Homo sapiens: one gene and its partner. The protein of the gene in region 2 interacts with the protein of the main gene of each other region in a pairwise test. Each region holds a gene or a part of one and is shown on either strand. Other genes may lie near its edges.

The links.
Region 1: the proteins of ADCY9 (region 2) and PXYLP1 interact in binary tests that used the Homo sapiens proteins (3 or more experiments, as listed by UniProt).

What each region holds. Positions count from the first base shown.
Region 1 is NC_000003.12:141,234,031-141,241,824, reverse strand, and holds part of PXYLP1 (2-phosphoxylose phosphatase 1), read right to left. Parts: intron 7,643-7,794; exon of another isoform or gene 7,507-7,642; intron 6,957-7,506; exon of another isoform or gene 6,865-6,956; intron 6,428-6,864; exon of another isoform or gene 3,678-6,427; intron 1-3,677. UniProt on the Homo sapiens protein: Responsible for the 2-O-dephosphorylation of xylose in the glycosaminoglycan-protein linkage region of proteoglycans thereby regulating the amount of mature glycosaminoglycan (GAG) chains.
Region 2 is NC_000016.10:4,112,666-4,121,995, forward strand, and holds the start of ADCY9 (adenylate cyclase type 9), read right to left. Parts: upstream 3,778-9,330; 5' UTR 3,025-3,777; intron 2,821-3,024; 5' UTR 2,778-2,820; coding exon 1,085-2,777; intron 1-1,084. UniProt on the Homo sapiens protein: Adenylyl cyclase that catalyzes the formation of the signaling molecule cAMP in response to activation of G protein-coupled receptors.

The sequences.
Region 1 (7,794 bases), on a different chromosome or scaffold from region 2:
AGCAGCCAAGCCCTCCTCAGATTCTGGCCCAAACTCCTCTGCAGACTCATCCCCTCTCACAGCCAGCCCATGAGTTCCATGGGGGCTGGTCCTTTTCTGCAAACCCTGTAAGGCCAGGCCCCATGGCACAGCAGTGTTGGACGGGTGAATGGCCACACCATCTCGCACGACTCTGGCACAGTCGACTTGCTGTTCCCCCTTTTCATAACTCAATGTCTGTGCCCATTCCACTCTCTTGGCCCAGATGTCTTCTTGACCTGGTTAACTCCTGCTTATCCTTAAACTCAGCTTAAGCACCACCTTCCCCTGGAAGCCTTCCCTGACCCCAAGGCTGGGTGACATCTTCCAATACTGGGCAACCACAGCCCTCAGAGCCTACCCCTCCCACTCTACTCATCAACACGACAGACTCATGTCAGCTTCCTTGCCCACCTTCCCCAGGGCTGGGTGGAGAGACAGCAGAGCAAGCAGCAGGTGCTCAACAGGTGTGTAGGGGAAGGGAGGGAGGGTGGGAAAAAGGAAGGGTGAGCACCAGGAAGAATGCTGCGGACGGAATAGCCCCATCACAGAAACCTACGACAAACTAAACAAGAATAAAGCACTACAGCCCAGTATATCAATATACCACTCATCAATTATTACTGAGGAAAACTAGCAGGAAGTAGTGGGAAAACACTTTTTAATGAATTAGAGGGGAATCAGGTTACTCTTTGTTGTGTCCTCTCCTCCCCTCCAGATGTGGGTTGGGGTGGGGGCTGGAGAGGAAGAGAAGCTTTGGAAGGTTGAGTGGGCAGGGGCACTTGAAAACAGGGAGCTCTCATAGGTTCCTCTGGCCTTGGGGGACTAAAGACCACTTCCTCTGGGGTAACCTCCAACTGCTGATGTGAATCAACTAGGACACATTCCCACAAAGCTGTTAAGAACATGTCCTGTGTCAAGACAGGGGGATAATGAGGGCCTCCCACTGTCCTACTGAGTCATCTGGCCCAGTTCCCAAAGGTAGGAACAGAAGCAGGGATTCAGAACAGATGATCTCCTGGGGATGAAGACGACTTTTGGCTGGAGCCTTCTTAGCACAGCATTTCCTTCTAAAGAAAACACCCCCACTAGCCCCTCAATATCCACTCATTCTTTCTTGTTAAGAGAATCCTGATTTTTGGGGGGAGGAGGGGGCAGACAGTGTAGCAGAGACTGCCAGCTAATTGTGATACCCATCTCCTTTCCCTCCTGGGCATGTGGCTGGACCACATTTCCTCCCCTTGGAAGGTATGCTCACACGACTGAGCCCTGGCCAGTGGAATGTCAGGGCCAGTAGTTCAGCACCTCTGAGCCTGGCCCACAAAATCCTCCCACACACCATCCTCCATGTTCCTTCCTCTTCAGCTGAGTGAGGCAAAGGAGCATGGCAGCCTTGAGAGCCTGAGTCCCTGAATATCCTCTTGGAGGAAAGCCCCAAGCAGAAACAGCCATTTTGGACTGTGTGTGAGCAAAAAGTGAATGCCTACCATATTTGAACCATTAAACATACTTTGTTTAAGCAGTGAGCCTTCCTCAGTGTGCCCCACTACACACTCACATGGCCCGTTTAACTGGGGGCAACCCATGTGATACAGTTCTGGCCATGAAATGTCAGGGGACATCTGGTTTGCTGGTGTTTTTTGCCATCATGAAGGAAAGGCCAAGAGAGTAACACAAGTGTCAGTACAGACAGATGTCAGCTGCTGAAACCAACACCAGCAATCACCTATCTTCACGCATTTTGTTACATAAGATAAACAAACCCCTATTTACTTAAGCCACTAAGCCAGGGCTTTCTGCTACTTTCAGCCAGACACATTCATAACTGATATGCTTTGCAACCACTCATCATTCATTCACCCAACTTTTATTGAGGCCTGTTTCATGCCAGTCCTTGTGCTAAAGGCCAAAGCTTTACAGATGAGCTGGGTATGGTCCCTGCTTTCTAGGGGCTCCCTATCAAGCTGGAAGAGAGGCCCATGAGCAGACAATCAGAATACACAGGGAATGGATGCTGTGGTGGCACATGATGATGTCCCAGGAGAGTGTGAGCATTGGGCAGTGGGCTGGCACTGAGGTGAGGCATTCCCAACTCCCCTTCGGGCATTTGGCACACAGAGTAAATAAACACTTCTCAAGCTAAAAAGCAAGTAAAAAGAACTCGGGATCCTCAGCCAAGCCAACTGCAATTACTTAGTGTAAGTAGAGTCGTTAAACACCATCAATTAATGCAGCTGTTTCAAGATAATCAGCAGTCATTAGAGCAAGATGCACAAGAGAAAAAAAATCATATGCTGCTAACTTAGCAATGCTAGAAATTATGTGAACCGAGGATGAGACAGGCTTGCTTAGATCTTCCTGCCTGCTGACGTTAGCCACCTCCCAAAATATACTTTCTTTCTCAAAGAAGACAGTGATTTTTCACTTTGAAGACAGAGCCAAAAAAAATCAACCATCCATGCCATGACCTTCGACCATAAATGCCCAAGCTTTGATTTTTCAGGTCTGTGTTTCCATTAGGGACTGCAACGGAGACAGACACACTGGCGACAAAAGAGGTTCCAGTCTGGGAAATCAAGAGATGATCATGACCAGAGAAGTCAGAGCACCTGGGGAGCCATTTGTAAAACAGAGAAAGGGTTTTCCCCCTTTTACCTTAATTCTCCCTACATACAAAAGGTTGGCATTATTTGCTGTTTCTTTGTTTTACAAGTGTGGGGCAAGGTTTTTTTTTTTTTTTTAAGACAAAACTTCATTTAAAATTTCCAGGACATAGGTCTACCCTTGAACAACACGGATTTGAACTGAGCAGGTCGACTTACACGTAGGTTCTCTTCCGCCTCTGCCACCCCTGAGACAGCAAGACCAACCCCTCCTCTTCCTCCTTCTCAGCCTACTCAATGTGAAGACAATGAGGATAAAACCTTTATGATGATCCACTTCCACTTAACGAATAGGAAATGTTTTCTCTTCCTTATGATTTTCTTAATAACATTTTCATTTCTCTAGCTTATTGTGAGAATACAGCATATAATACATACAACATACAAAATATGTGTTAACTGACTGCATTATCAGTAAGGCTTCTGGCTAACAGTAGGCTATGTATAGTTACAATATTGGGGATTTAAAAGTTATACTTGGATTTTCAACTGTGGGGGGCCATGGTGGGGGGAATCAGTGCTCCTAACCCCTGAGTTGTTCAAGGGTCAACCATAGTTTAAAGTAAATAAAAATAAGCTGGTTGCCACTAAGATAACTGATGACTGGTTTTCCAGTCTGACTGCTGACTTATCGGTATGAAGTATTCCAGTGTATGTTGAGTACAAGCTGGGCTAATCACGCTCAAACGAGGCAGAGAAGCACTCGAGTTCCTGAAGCAGCAATCACAGAAGGATTTTCTGGTCGACAGCCCATTGCTGGAGGCCGTGCCAGCTCCGTGATGGCAGGTGCTAGTCGGGCAGGCTGCCATGCTGGAGCCTCTCTGTAGGACGCACAGAGCAAGCAAAGCGAGGTCTGAGGAGGAAGGTCCTCTCTTTCCAGCACCAGTTAGGAAACCCATGCCCGTCAACATAGTTTCTTTGGGTCAAGAAGTTTCTAGCTACGGCAGACACAGGAAATGCAGTGTTCTGGCTTCCTGCCTCTGGCTAGTCCCCTACCTGCTCTCAGGAGCAGCTGTGCCATTTCTTGCTCAGAGAACTGGGTCTCTGATAGTACCAAAGGTTTCTGGGGCTGCTGAAGAGCCAGTCCAGTCCAAAATAGTAGCCAGGGCAGCATTCTGTCAACCAGGACCAAAAATAGTGTTGGCAAAACCAGGTGACTAAACAGATCTAGGATCTCTTATCATGCTTCCCACTAACAACCTGTGGCCAAGAGTGACAGTTAAAACAACCAGCATGTGTCAGACACAGATGAGTCAAAATGAGTGCCTGTTTCAAAGAGCTGGCAAGGTCACCACCCCATGGTCAGCCCCTTCACAGCCTCTCATGGCTGTAAGTGAGCAAGTGCCTGGAAATCGATCTGCACCGCCATTCATGTCCTTCACCACAAACTGAAATATAATGTCCTCTGTTCCATGAGGACAGAGACTATTATCCTGTATCCATCATCTCAGTGCAGTCAGTTGGCGCCTAAAAGGTAATTTTAAGAAACAAATGAATAGGAATAGCAGCTAACATTTTTAAAGCATGTACCATGTGGTAGGTGCTTTTCTAAGCCCTCATCATGTATTATTATATTTCAGTTTCACAACAGTACCATGAAGTAGGTATTATTATCACCACCCAAATTTTACAAATAAGGAAACTGGCACAGAGAAGTAACTTGTTCAAGGGTACATTGCTAGTAATGGTAGAGCCAGGGTTTAAAGTCAGTTTGGCCTCTGAATGTACACACTCAATCACTGCACTGTGCTGAATACACAACCAACTCAGGTACTCTAGTATTAGGAAGTCATCAACAGAGAACCTCTGACATCTACAAACCTTGAGAAGTCCTTTCAGGTTTCTGGGTGCTACATACAGAGTTTTTGTTTGTTTGTTTGACTTGCAGAAAGTTTTAGAGAAAACCAATGCCTATTTTTATCCCTAAGAATAGGACCACCTACAATTTTCAAAAAACTATGTAACCACATTTGGTTATCAAGCAACGTGGGCAGGGATATCCAGGTTTACATAGTATTTCTCTGCTTATGAGATCTGAATTCTAGAGGAAGCCTTTTAACCATCCCAAGGTCCCATCTCCCCATCTCTAAGCAGATCGCAGGCTTATTGAATCAAATGAGATATGGACAAAGTTGCTTTTTTATATAGTAAGGTACTGTATAAACATAATGCATGATCCTAATAATTAATATAACTTGCATAAAATATTATATACTTATTAATCTATACTTGCCAAATTTTCTATACTTTCAAGATAGTTCATATTTATATCTATGTTTTAAGATTTAAGCTTAATAGTTTATTTCTGTAAGTCCCTCCATTATTATTTCTGAGCTTCCAAAAATTTGTTCTACAACTTTACTAACTTTACGGTAATCCAACTGCCACTTTCATTTTAGAAGCATAAAGCCTTAACAAGACAGTAAATGTTTAATTCTAACTAGATTCTCCTATGTCTGCAGAGAACAAACAGCAAGTAAGAGCTTCATTTTATTTTACGGTTAAAAGCTCAAAATGATACTGCTGGATCTCTGAAGGCCTGAAGGTTGGTGTTAGATCCAAGAATGAGGTAAGCTTAGGAAAGCAAGCTGTGGTTTTGTTGGTTGAAAAGACACATGTCTCTGAATAACTGAGGGGTGGGACAAATAGTATTCAAAATGATTTGTAACTTTAATGTAAATGATGGCTGTAACCACAAACAGAAGTGGAGGAGGAAAGGGGAGAGAGTGGGGGCATCAAAACCAGGTGCAATAATTTTCATCTTAATATGCTTTTTAATCAATATGCTATTGATTACAGCTCTTTCTGAGGAAGCTGGTCACACCCAGGGGCATAAGGGTGGCGAGCAGGTGACAAAAGGATGCCCTGTAAACTGAAACATGAGTGTGTAAATTGGGGAAATGATTCTGCAAATACAAAGAGAATTTTAAAGTTACTACAGTCTCTACTACCACATGTTTGAGTTCCCCCAAACTCTCCTCCACCCTCGAGTACGCAGCTCAGAGGGAGCTCCACTGATGGAGGGAGGGGCAGACGCATGCACAGATGACTGTGGGCCAAGGGAATGAGGTGAAGGGTGCCTCCTGACTGCAGAAACTACTCCCCAAGCCGCCATCCAGTTCTTCTTCCATGCCTTTTTAATCATTAACTTCTTCCAGACTCCTGAGATTGTTCCCGCCATCACTGCAGACTGAACTTTTTCCAAAAGCCAGTGGCTTCCCCAGCCAAAGTCCAAAAAGGGTCAGAGAAGCCTGCTGGTTTTGAGGGTGGAGGATAAACAGGCCAGAGTCTGTGGCTCAGTTAGGTGTTAGTTGGCCAGGGCCCTCCTGCCTTTTGGACTCAGAGCGGACCCTGAAATTCATTCTGGGTTCACGGGTGCCTCCTCGTGGCTGCCATGCAGCATCTCCAGGTTGAGAGGCTCCAATGGGCCGTCGTTTACCTGCAAGGCTGCACAGCAGGTTCAAAAAGAGTCCCTGGGAGATGCTTCTATCAAAAGGCCCACCATCCTACTAGAAAGCTGCTCCCTCTTCTTCACCTCCTAAATACAGGTGCACAGACCTTCCAAGCCACTGCTCCTTTTGTCACTTACCTAGACTCTCCCCTCAGCACCTCAGGTGAGATGAAGTGGCAATGGCTGCAATCTGAAGTGGCCATGGGGGCTCTCCAAGTGGTACCCTGTCTCCCTGGAAGCTTCCTCCATTGGAAAATGGGTGATGTCAAAGGGGACTGGGGCTACAGCTCAGGGCCTATAAATTAAGCCATGGTAAAGTGGCTTCCCAGGCCAAACCCCAGACCAATCTTGCTCAAGCCATTATTTCCAAAAGGGCACACACCTCATTCAAAAACTTCAAACAGCTCAGTGCTCTCCTGCCGTGCTAAGCCCAAGTCTCAGCTGGCTTTCAAGGCCTTCTCAAAACCAGAATGATGGGCCCAGCAAATGGATTTCAGATTCCCATGGGGTCATTTTTCCTATCTCAGTGACTTTGCTCCTAACTGGTAACCCCTACACTGGAATGTGGGCACACTTCCTTATCCACCAACCAGGAACCTTGTCCAGGGACAGGTTCTGGGGCCAAAATCTCCCCCTATGAATTTTCAGGACCTTGAACATTCTCCTATCCTTTCTCCCACCCACCTCTAGATAGTAGTATGTCTCTTTCTCCCTCTCCTCCCTTTCTCTTACTCACAGACTGCAGGCATTAATTAAACCTCTTCTAGAAAACAGATTTTCACCAGCTGCAGGAATTCTGAGCCAGACCTGAAGACAGAGACAATCTGGGTAAGAAAGATAAGTTCGTGACAGCCAGGGGCAGTGCAGGCTCCCACAGCCAAGTGGCAGTCTCAATTTTAGCCCTTTCCAGATTCCCCCACAAAAAAAGGGGGACATGAGGTGTTCCCACCCCCTCAGCATTTGGCTGTACTGCCTGGGGGTGGCCTTTGACAGAGGCACAAGAGCTGGACCTTGCCCCATCTGCCAGTGGGTTATAGCCACCTCCAAGAGACCAAAGCACTGGCCCAAAACACCAACCTCCCTCCCACCAATAGAGCTGCAAGCCACAGTGCCAGAAATGTGCAAGAAGAGGCACTCCCAGCTCGCCACAGGAAGCAACACCCACTGGAGTGGGGATGGTGCAATCTGAAGTGGCCAGTGGGGCTCTGCAAGTGGTACCCTGTCTCCCTGGGAGCTTCCTCCGTCAGTGGGCAGGGATAGGAAATGTTAAAGGGGACTGGGGCTACAGCTCTGGGCACTATAGGTTAAGCTATGGTGGACTCAACCCTCAGCAGACAAACTTAGTAGCTTCCAAGGGCGCCCACCACCACCTACCCCAATTCTTGAATGAAGACAACTGATTTTCTTCATGGAAATCTTGGAGTCCCCACTGAGGTTAACGACCCACCATCAGAGACTGATCCGTAGATTGCACTCACTGCTCCAAACACACACAAAAATGAGTTTGTCTCTGGTGATATGACACATTAAAAAAAAAAAACTGTTGAATTTAAGGGTAACATTTTGAACAGTGTAGCAAAGTGTAGAAAACATTGGTTGTGAACTCAGACTAATTCACCGGGGCATCCATTTTTTTTCCTCACAAACACTGAGTACCCCTAT
Region 2 (9,330 bases):
ATGCAGTGTGTGGGGACCACAAAATACAATACAGCTTCACAAAAGCAGGCTTTTAAAAAAAATCAGTGTTATTTTCTCTACATACTTCCACAACAGATGTTCCCCTCAATCCTGAAGATTTTAGTAAAACATAAGGACTGTTTAAAAAGGAGGAAGTGGGGGAAGAAATGTAGCAGATTACTTAAAATCTTTCTTTTTCGTCCTACTTATTTTAATATCATTTTCCAGATCTCAAAGACTTTTGTCCTATATTAGAAAAAACAAGCAGCCCAGTAAAAACATCAAGAATAGCAGTAAGGAGCTTCAAACCAGGGACCAGGCACCAGATCCAAACCTGAGAGGATGAGGGAGGGGAATACCAGCTCTCCGGCAGGTACGTTTCTCCCTTCCAAATCACCTGGTGGCTGGAGAAGCTCAATATGAAGCTCTTCACTTAAGGCAAATACTATGATAATAAAATATCCTTAAACAAATGATGGCTGAAAGCTGAAAATGCAAACTTTTTTTAAAAAAAAAAAAAGACCTAGATAAAAGACAGTGTGTACTCAGAGGTAAGTAACTCCGTCTAATTCTCCAGAGACCTGCAGGACTGCGCCGACTTCCTATCCCTATTTTGAGGATAAGCAAAGTGAGGCCTAGAGAGGAGAAAGATTTTATTCTCCACGTTTTCGCAAAAAGGGCAGAGAGAAACATTTGGATGGGACTTCAGGGTGACCAAATGAATGCAAAGGCAATTTCCTTAAGTGCTAAACAGTGCTGAATGCTGAAGGGCTCCATACCCTTACATTCACCGGACGTGCCCCCACATTTCAGCCAACCAGTGGTTATGCACGTTCAAAGTTCTCCTTCCTTCTAAAGGTCGCGTCTAGGTCATCTCTGCACAGCGTCCCTTTCTGCAGTGTGAACAGATCTGTGATATTTGACCCGCTGAAAGAAAAGTCACACTGACCCTGAGATCCCCCCATGGTAAGGCATTCTGAGATACCTGAGCTGTCTGCAGACACTGAGGCTGGAAGCTTTTTTTTTTAATTTAATACAATCAGGATCAGGGAGGGGGGATGCCGAGGTAAAGCAGTGCACATACCTTTCAACTGGTCAGCAACCACGCTCTGGCCCAGCCGTTCAATAACTTTCCCATCTTCCATTTCGTACCGGTCATCTAAGTATTTTGCGGTGGCCTCAGAAATGTGAACTTTGCCGGCCACTCCCAGCTGCTCCATGAGATTGGCCAGGTTCACATCGTTGGACCACACGTCAAATTTAAACCTCCTCATGCCCAGGATGCCGCAAAGGACGGTGCCCGTGTGCACCCCGACTCTCATGTTCACCATCTCCTTCTTCTCCTGGCAGAACTGCTCGATGGCCTTGATCATGCCCAGGCCCATCTCGATGCAGCAGTAGGCATGGTCGGCCCGGGGCTCGGGACAGCCCGCCACGCAGTAGTAACAGTCTCCCAGGGTGCTGATTTTCTCACACTTGGTCTCCTCACACAGGCGGTCGAAGCGACCGAACAGATCGTTCAGGAGACCCACCAGGGCGTGGGCAGACTTGTTGGCACTCATCTTGGTGAAGCCCACGATATCTGCAAATAAAATACTGACTTCTTCGATCTGCTGCATCTTAAAAGGGCGGAAGGCTATAGGAGCTTTTTGGATGGAAGACTTTTTCTTCCTGTTCTTGGGGCTCGAGGTGGCATGCCTCTTGACAGAATTCTCACTCTCCTCATCTCCCTGCTTCATTAAGTCATCGGCTATGATTCTTGGCATCACGGAATGAATCATCCTCTCTTTGAGGGCTTTTTCCACTTCCAGGTCCTTCCCGTGCATAATGGATTGCCCCACCTTGAGGAAGGTGCTCCTGGACCTCACCTGGGACATGACGAACAGGTGGACCCCGATGGCGTGGATGCAGCCGTGGAGCAGCCCCCTGCTCAGCAGCTCCCAGTGCAGGGCCCCGGCTCCGGGCGAGGGGAAGCAGGCTTCATCCCGGAAATGGTAGCCAAAGGTCTCGAAAAGGACAGAGTAGGCCACCCCCAGACACAAACTCAGGTACAAAGGTAAGTGCATGACGGTATAGAGCAAAAAGAGCACTTCGATGCACATGGAGAAGCTCCCCACTTGAGATAAGCAAGTATCTGTGGGCCGGGCTGTGGCCGTAAGGTTGGAGCTGTCGCCGCGTCCTGAGACAGGCGTCAAGACCTGGAACTGCGCAGCCAGGGTCAGGGCGAACACCAGCAGGGTGAGAGCCAGCGAGGTCCACGCGTAATGCCGGGCGTACAGCTTGGTGAAGGTAAACAGAAAGAAGCCCACACACACCAGGAGGAAGCACAGCGCGGGGGCGACCATGACGATCAGTCTGGATCTCATGTGGACCGCAAAATAGATGCTCCACAGAAGGCAGGCGAAGCCGATGTAGAAGAGCGCATACCGGAACCGGCGCTGGGTCTGCGGGAAGCAGCGCTCCAGGCAGGCCTCCTCCAGGTTCACCGAGTCGAACTTGGGGTCCCACCAGCGGCTGGAGGCCCTCTCGAACAGCTGGGGCAGCTTCTTCTGCCTGCGCAGCCGGCCTCCGCCGCCCACTCGCCGGGGGACGCCCCCGGAGTCCCCAGAGCTGCTGCAGCTAGAGGAGATGCTGTATTTGCAGTGCTTGGGGTGGCTGTTGGAGGACAGCTGCTTGGGGTTGATCTTGACGCGCACGCTGTTGCTGTCCCCGCTGGAGTCGCAGCTCACCTCGGTGCTGTGGTGATGCAGCAGCTGCTGGTGGGGTGGGGAAGCCATGTTGTCGAGTCCCGGGGCCTGCCCCGGCCGGGGTCACCAGTACCTGCCAGCAAAACGGGGAGAGTTAGCGGCGCTCCCACCTAGGCATGCACGCCTAGAGGCCCGGGACCTGCTCCTGTCCTAAGGGGCGGCTCCAGCACGCGACCTGGACAGGCACCATCTGTTCCTGTGGTTCCCGGCTCAGCGGTGCTCCCACCGCCCCCACCGCCCCCACCTTCGAGGCGCACGAGAACCGCTCGGGACGGACCTAGAACGCCCGGGGGTCCCCGCCGCGTGGCCGCCGTGGCTCCGGGACCGCTTTGCTCGCTCGCCTTCCGCGCCTCTCGCCCCGAGGGTGGCCTCCGCGCCGCGCGGCTTCTCCTCCTCGCGCGCTCGCCTCCTCCAGCTGCGGCTCCGGAGGGAAGTTCAGACCTTGAGCGCTCCCAGCCCCGCGAGCCGCCTGCGCACAAACAACTCCGCTGGCGGCGCGGAGCCCTCCATCCTGCAGGAGCCGCGCTCCGATGCGTCAAAGGCGGCGCGCGGCCGGCCCCGGGCCCGGACCCCGACCCGGAGCAGCGAGCTTCGGCGGGCGCCCCCGGCTCGCGCTCCCCGGCCGCCCCCCGCGCTCCGGGCCGGCCCTGCCCGCGGCGGCGGGCGCTGGGGGTGGGGGCGCCCCGGGCTGCGAGTGCGCGGAGCCCGTCGGCGCGGCCCGTCTAGTGGGGCCTGCTTCCCCCCGAGTGCGCCGCCGCTCCCGCCGCGGCCGCAGCTGTCCCGGGACCGAGCGCGTGGAACCACGGACGCGGGCCCCTCGCCGGGCGGCGGTGCAGACGCTGCCGCAGAGCCGGGCTCCCGCGACGCCGGCCGGGACGCCCGCCCGCCCGCGCCCACGCCGGGGGCCGCCTCCCCGAGCTAGAGATGCGGCCGCCGCCGCGCCCGCCGCCGTGTCCCCCGCGGCCGCTGCCTCATGTCGGAAGAGCTGCCGCCGCCACCATCTCCGGCCCCTGCCCCGCCCGCTGTCACTGACAGACGCGCGCCCGCGCCGCCCCTCGCCCAGCCGCAGCGCGCACGCGCGGCCCGCGCTCGCCGCCACCGCCTCCTGGCCCCGGACACGCGCACGGGCCGCGCGCCGCCCCGCCTTGGTGCGCGCGCTGGGCTGGGGCTGCGGGGCGGGGCGGGGCGGGGCGGGGCGCGCGCTCGGCTCCGCCCCCCGCCCCGGGCGGCGCCGCTTCTAGGCGGCGGGCTGTGGCCGCTGTCCGCGCTCCGGGCGCTGTGGGCCCGCCCTCCCTCGGCGTCCCAGAGGCCGCGCGCCGCCCGGGGTCCCGACCCTGCGGAGAGACCTGAAGGCGCCTGCCGTGGAAGAAGCCGCTGGCCGCAACGTTTGGGAAATCAAAATGTTGCCTTCCCACTCGGCACGCCTTTGGGATAAATCGAAGTTTCCAACCGTTGGATTTCCCTCCCGGGAGGCTCCCCTTGCTCTGTAAGCAATGAATGCGGGCCCCGGGGCACTCGGCCTGCCCTGGACCTGCTCACGGGGCGACCTTCACGGGCCTAGCCTCCAAAGCTGGGCCCACCGACGACCACGTTCCCCCGCCCCAGGGGTAGTTTACCTTGCTGTCCTTGAGCCCTTCTCCCCCTCCTCATGAACTACTGCTTTTCCTTTTACACAAATGAGACTTTCAAAGGAGTCCGCGTCCCATAATGGCAGTTGTGCATTGGCCTCCATAAACATTGCCACGTGTAAATAAAATCCTATTCTCTCTAGCATGCAGATCCCGACCCCTTCTCCCCACACTCCACAGTGCCTCCTGCCAGTCACGGGGCTCTCTTCCATCCCCTCCCTCGCCTCCCAGGCCCAGCGCCGGGGCCCACACCAGGTCTCACTGTTGAATTAGAAAATAAAAGTAAAATGTGATCTGTCCATGCAATGGAATATTATTCGGCTACAAAAAGGAATGGAGCACCGATGCATGCTGCAGTGTGGAGGAACCCGGGAAACGTTATGCTAGTGAAAGAAGCCAAACAAAAAAGGCCACATAGCGTATGATTCCATCCAGATGAAATGTCTCGAATTGGCAAATCCGTAGAGGCGACACAGATTGGAGGTTGCCAGGTGCTAGGGGAGGAAGATAAGCAGCTTGGGGTTTCGTTTTAGGATGATGAAAAAGTCTAGAAATGATCCAACAGGATGAATCTACATACTGCCCTTGAATCATACACTTTAAAGTGGTTTAGGCCGGGAGCGGTGGCTCACGCCTGTAATCCCAGCACTTTGGGAGGCCGAGGTGGGCGGATCACCTGAGGTCGGGAGTTCGAGACCAGCCTGACCAACACGGAGAAACCCCATCTCTACTAAAAATACAAAAATTAGCCGGACGTGGTGGCACATGCCTGTAATCCCAGCTACTCGAGAGGCCGAGGCAGGAGAATTGCTTGAACCCGGGAGGCGGAGGTTGTGGTGAGCTGAGTTCGCACCATTACACTCCAGCCTGGGCAACAAGAGTGAAACTCCATCTCAAAAAATAATAATAAAATAAAATAAAGTGGTTTAAATGGTAAATGTTATGTTGAGTGTATTTTACCACAATAAAGGAGGAAAAAACTAAAAGCAACATATTGTGGTGGTATTCCTGCAGAAGTGTGTAATCTCAATCCAATCGCAAGAAAACACCAGACAAACCCAGATTGAGACCTGTTCTACAAAGTGATTAACCAGTACCCATCAAAAGTGTCCTTGGACACTTTGGGTCTTGAAAGACAAAGACTGAGAAACTGTCACAATCTAGGAATCGTCCCTAAGGGGATAGATACAACAACTAAATGGAACATGGGATGCTGGTTGGGAACATGGAACAGGAAAGGACAGTAGCAGGAGAGCGGGCAAAATTCACATAAGATCTGCAATTTCCTGGTTCTGATCCTCTTACTATGGTTAGGTAAGACGTTAACATTTTTAGGGGAAGCTGGGCCCTGTGCAGTGGCTCACACCTGTAATCCCAGCACTTTGGGAGGCTGAGGCAGACAGACCACCTGAGGTTAGGAGTTCAAGACCAGCCTGGCCAGCATGGTGAAACCCCCGTCTCTACTAAAAATACAGAAATTAGTTGGGCATGGTGGTGTGCGCCTGTAATCCCAGCTACTCAGGAGGCTGAGGCACAAGAATCACTTGAATCCAGGAGACGGAGTTTGCAGTGAACCGAGATCATGCCACTGCACTCCAGCCTGGGCAACAGAGCAGGACTCCATCTTGGGGGAAAAAAAATTAGGGGAAGCTGGATGTAGGATACAGGGAAACTCGCTAGTATTTCTGCAACTCTTCAAGTCTAAAACTATTTCAAAATAAGTTTATCTAAAAATTTAAAAAATAAACCTTTAATGAACATCAATTCTATGCCAGGCACTCTCACATACGAGGTTCAGAAACGCATGGTGTGTCACATGCATTCGCTTAGTAAATGGGATAACAATAGTGAACTAACATTGACCGAACACGTCATAAATGCCAGAAACTACTGGACATTTTCACCTGTGACACATTTGGTCATTGCCACAACCCTCTGAGGTAGATACTATTGTCCCTTGTTTAGAGAGGTGAAACCCAGGATTGAAGAGAAACGCACCCTAGGTCTCCCACTAAGGGTGATGAGTTCAGATGGAAAACCAGGTCTCAGAATTCTGAGGCCATGACGCCTTGTGTGACCCTGGCACTACCCTCTGCAAGCCTCACGATGGCCCAGCACAGACTGTACCTGTCTCATCCATCAGCCCAACTGGATGGGAGGCCCTCAGAGCCAGGACTCACAGCTTCCGTCTTCCCTTGCTGGCTGCAACGCTGTGCTCCCTGCTTCCTGGTTTCCTGAAACGATCTGAAAGCTTGCCTGTCTGCACTTCTTTCCTCCTCCCTAAATCATTTGTGGTAACTTATGTGTTTGTAAGTTAGTCACGTCGGATTTTTAGACACAAGTAATGGTCATACTCACCTCCCTACTTCTCTGGAAGCAATTCGGCCACATTGCCTGCTGTGGAAACCTATAAGCTGACAAGCCTCCCCAGTCTCCAGGTCAGGGAGTGAATCATGCCATCAACCCCGGGGGACTGGGGCTGTGGTGCCAGCACTGTGTGTCAGGCCCTGGAGGTACAAGGATATGCCATCCATATCTTTTCTTTTCTTTTCTTTTTTTTTTTTTTTGAGACGGAGTCTCGCTTTGTCACCCAGACTAGAGTGCAATGGTGCGATCTCGGATCACTGCAACCTTTGCCTCCCGGGGTTCAAGCAATTCTCCTACCTCAGCCTCCAGTGGAGCTGGGATTACCACCATGCCCAGCTGATTTTTGTATTTTTAGTAGAGACAGGGTTTCACCATATTGGCCAGGCTGGTCTCGAACTCCTGACCTCATGATTCACATGCCTTGGCCTCCCAAAAGTGCTGGGATTACAGGCGTGAGCCACCGTGCCCAGCCGCCATCTGTTTCTTTAAGGGGCTTAGGAACGATGTCCAGGGGAGGGGTTGGGTTAAGAAGATGGGATCAATTAGGCTTTCTGAAGGATTGGATGTGAAGGAGAGTTCTATAAAGGAGGTTAACCATCTTCTCATAATGCCAAGACCCAAAGGGAAGTCACTGGAGGGTTCTGGGTTCTTCTTGACCTCCCAGAAGCATAAAGGTACCCGATTCACAGAAGATACGGGGCAGATGCAATAGCTTTCTTCAAACATCCAATCCAGGGTGCTGCCAAATCCACAGAGAGTTTCTTTTTTCCATCTGTGATGTGTACAGAACTCCCACCTGGACACAGTGGGAATCAGAATGTGTCCATGAAAACTCTGCAAAAGCTTGCAGAATGCCTTGCCTGCCTCAGTGTCTCCTCCTCACCCTCCCTCACATGCAAATTCACATGATGGGTGAGGACCTTGGCTCCAGGATATCAGAGGTCAGACTGGGTGGCAACCATGACAGGCTTTGAGATAAGTTGCATAATGATTGAGTTGTAGCCATTCTCATCACACCGGCCCCTGAGGACTCGGCAGTGCCTACGTGATTTCATTTGTCAGGTGGACCACAATCTTGGAGAACCATCTGCTGGAAGATGGGATTCCCTGCTATGGCCTGATCATGCGTCCAAAACTGCAGTTACAAGCTTTGAGTCTTTTTCTCTTTCAACTGATGAGGGTGAGTTTGTAGGAACGTACCTGCTTTTTTTTTTTTTTTTTTTTTTTTTTTTTTGAGATGGAGTCTCACTCTGTCACCCAGGCTAGAGTGTAGTAGCATGATCTCAGCTCACTGCAACTTCCATTTCCCAGGTTCAGGCAATTGTCCTGCCTCAGCCTCCCAAGTAGCTGAGACTATGAGCATATGCCACCACACCCAGCTAATTTTTGTATTTTTAGTAGAGGCAGGGTTTCACCATGTTGGCCAGGCTGGTCTTGAACTCCTGACCTCAAGTGATCCTCCTGCCTCGGCCTCCCAAAGTGCTGGGATTATAGATGTGAGCCACACGCTTGGCCTTTACCCACATTTTTTCTCTACCATTGACTGCTGTTCACAAGCCTCCAGCAGCTACCTTCACATTGACAGGAAGATCAGGCGTCTCAGCAAAGCAAAAGATCCTTTGGAGAAGATCACCAAAATACCTGCAGGTGCCTCCATAACCAGGTGTATTCCATCTAGCCACATCCATAGATTCTACATCCAGCCATGCCCAGTTTAGAGGCCAATACAAATTCATTGAATGACTGCATATGGGAGTTATATTAATATATTTTTATTTTTTTTTAATGGGTTCAACCAGGAGGCGGAGCTTGCAATGAGCCGAGATCTCGCCACTGCACTCCAGCCTGGGCGACAGAGACTCCACCTCAAAAAAAAAAAAAAAAAAAGGTTTCAAGAAATTCTCCTGCCTCAGTCTCCAAGTAGCTGGGAATATAGGCATGCGCCCACACACCCAGCTAATTTTTGTATTTTTAGTAGAGACAAGGTTTCACCATGTTGGCCAGGCTGGTCTCAAACTCCTGACTTCAAGTGATCCACCTGTCTCCGCCTCCCAAAGTGCTGGGATTACAGGTGTGAGCACCCAGCTGGCAATCACATTTTAAGGCAAGGAGGTGCCGATTGGTGGCCCCAACAAGATGAGCTTGGTTGAAAGAGCAGATGGGAGATTCGAAGTAAAGCATGGTGTCTGTCACTCAGCTTTGTCACCTGGCACAGCTCCTGCTGGAGCTTCCATCCCATCTGTGTGGAATAATGGTGAGGAGCCCAGGATTGGGTGTAGGAAAAACTCTGCAGGAGCTGTGAAGTGGGTTGAACGGAGTCCCCTCAAAATTCAGGTCCACCAGGATCCTCAGAATGTGGCCTTATTTGGAAATGGGCTTTTGCACACATAATTAGTTAAGAAACAGTTGTACTGGACCACGATGGCCTAAATCTGATGACTGGCATCATTTTAAGAAGAGGAACCGGGCACAGTGGCTCATGCCTATAACCCCAAGGCTTTGGGAGGCCAAGACAGGAGGATCACTTGAGCCCAAGAGTTGGAGACCAACCCAGACAACAGAGTGAGCCCTGCGCTTTTTTTTTTTTT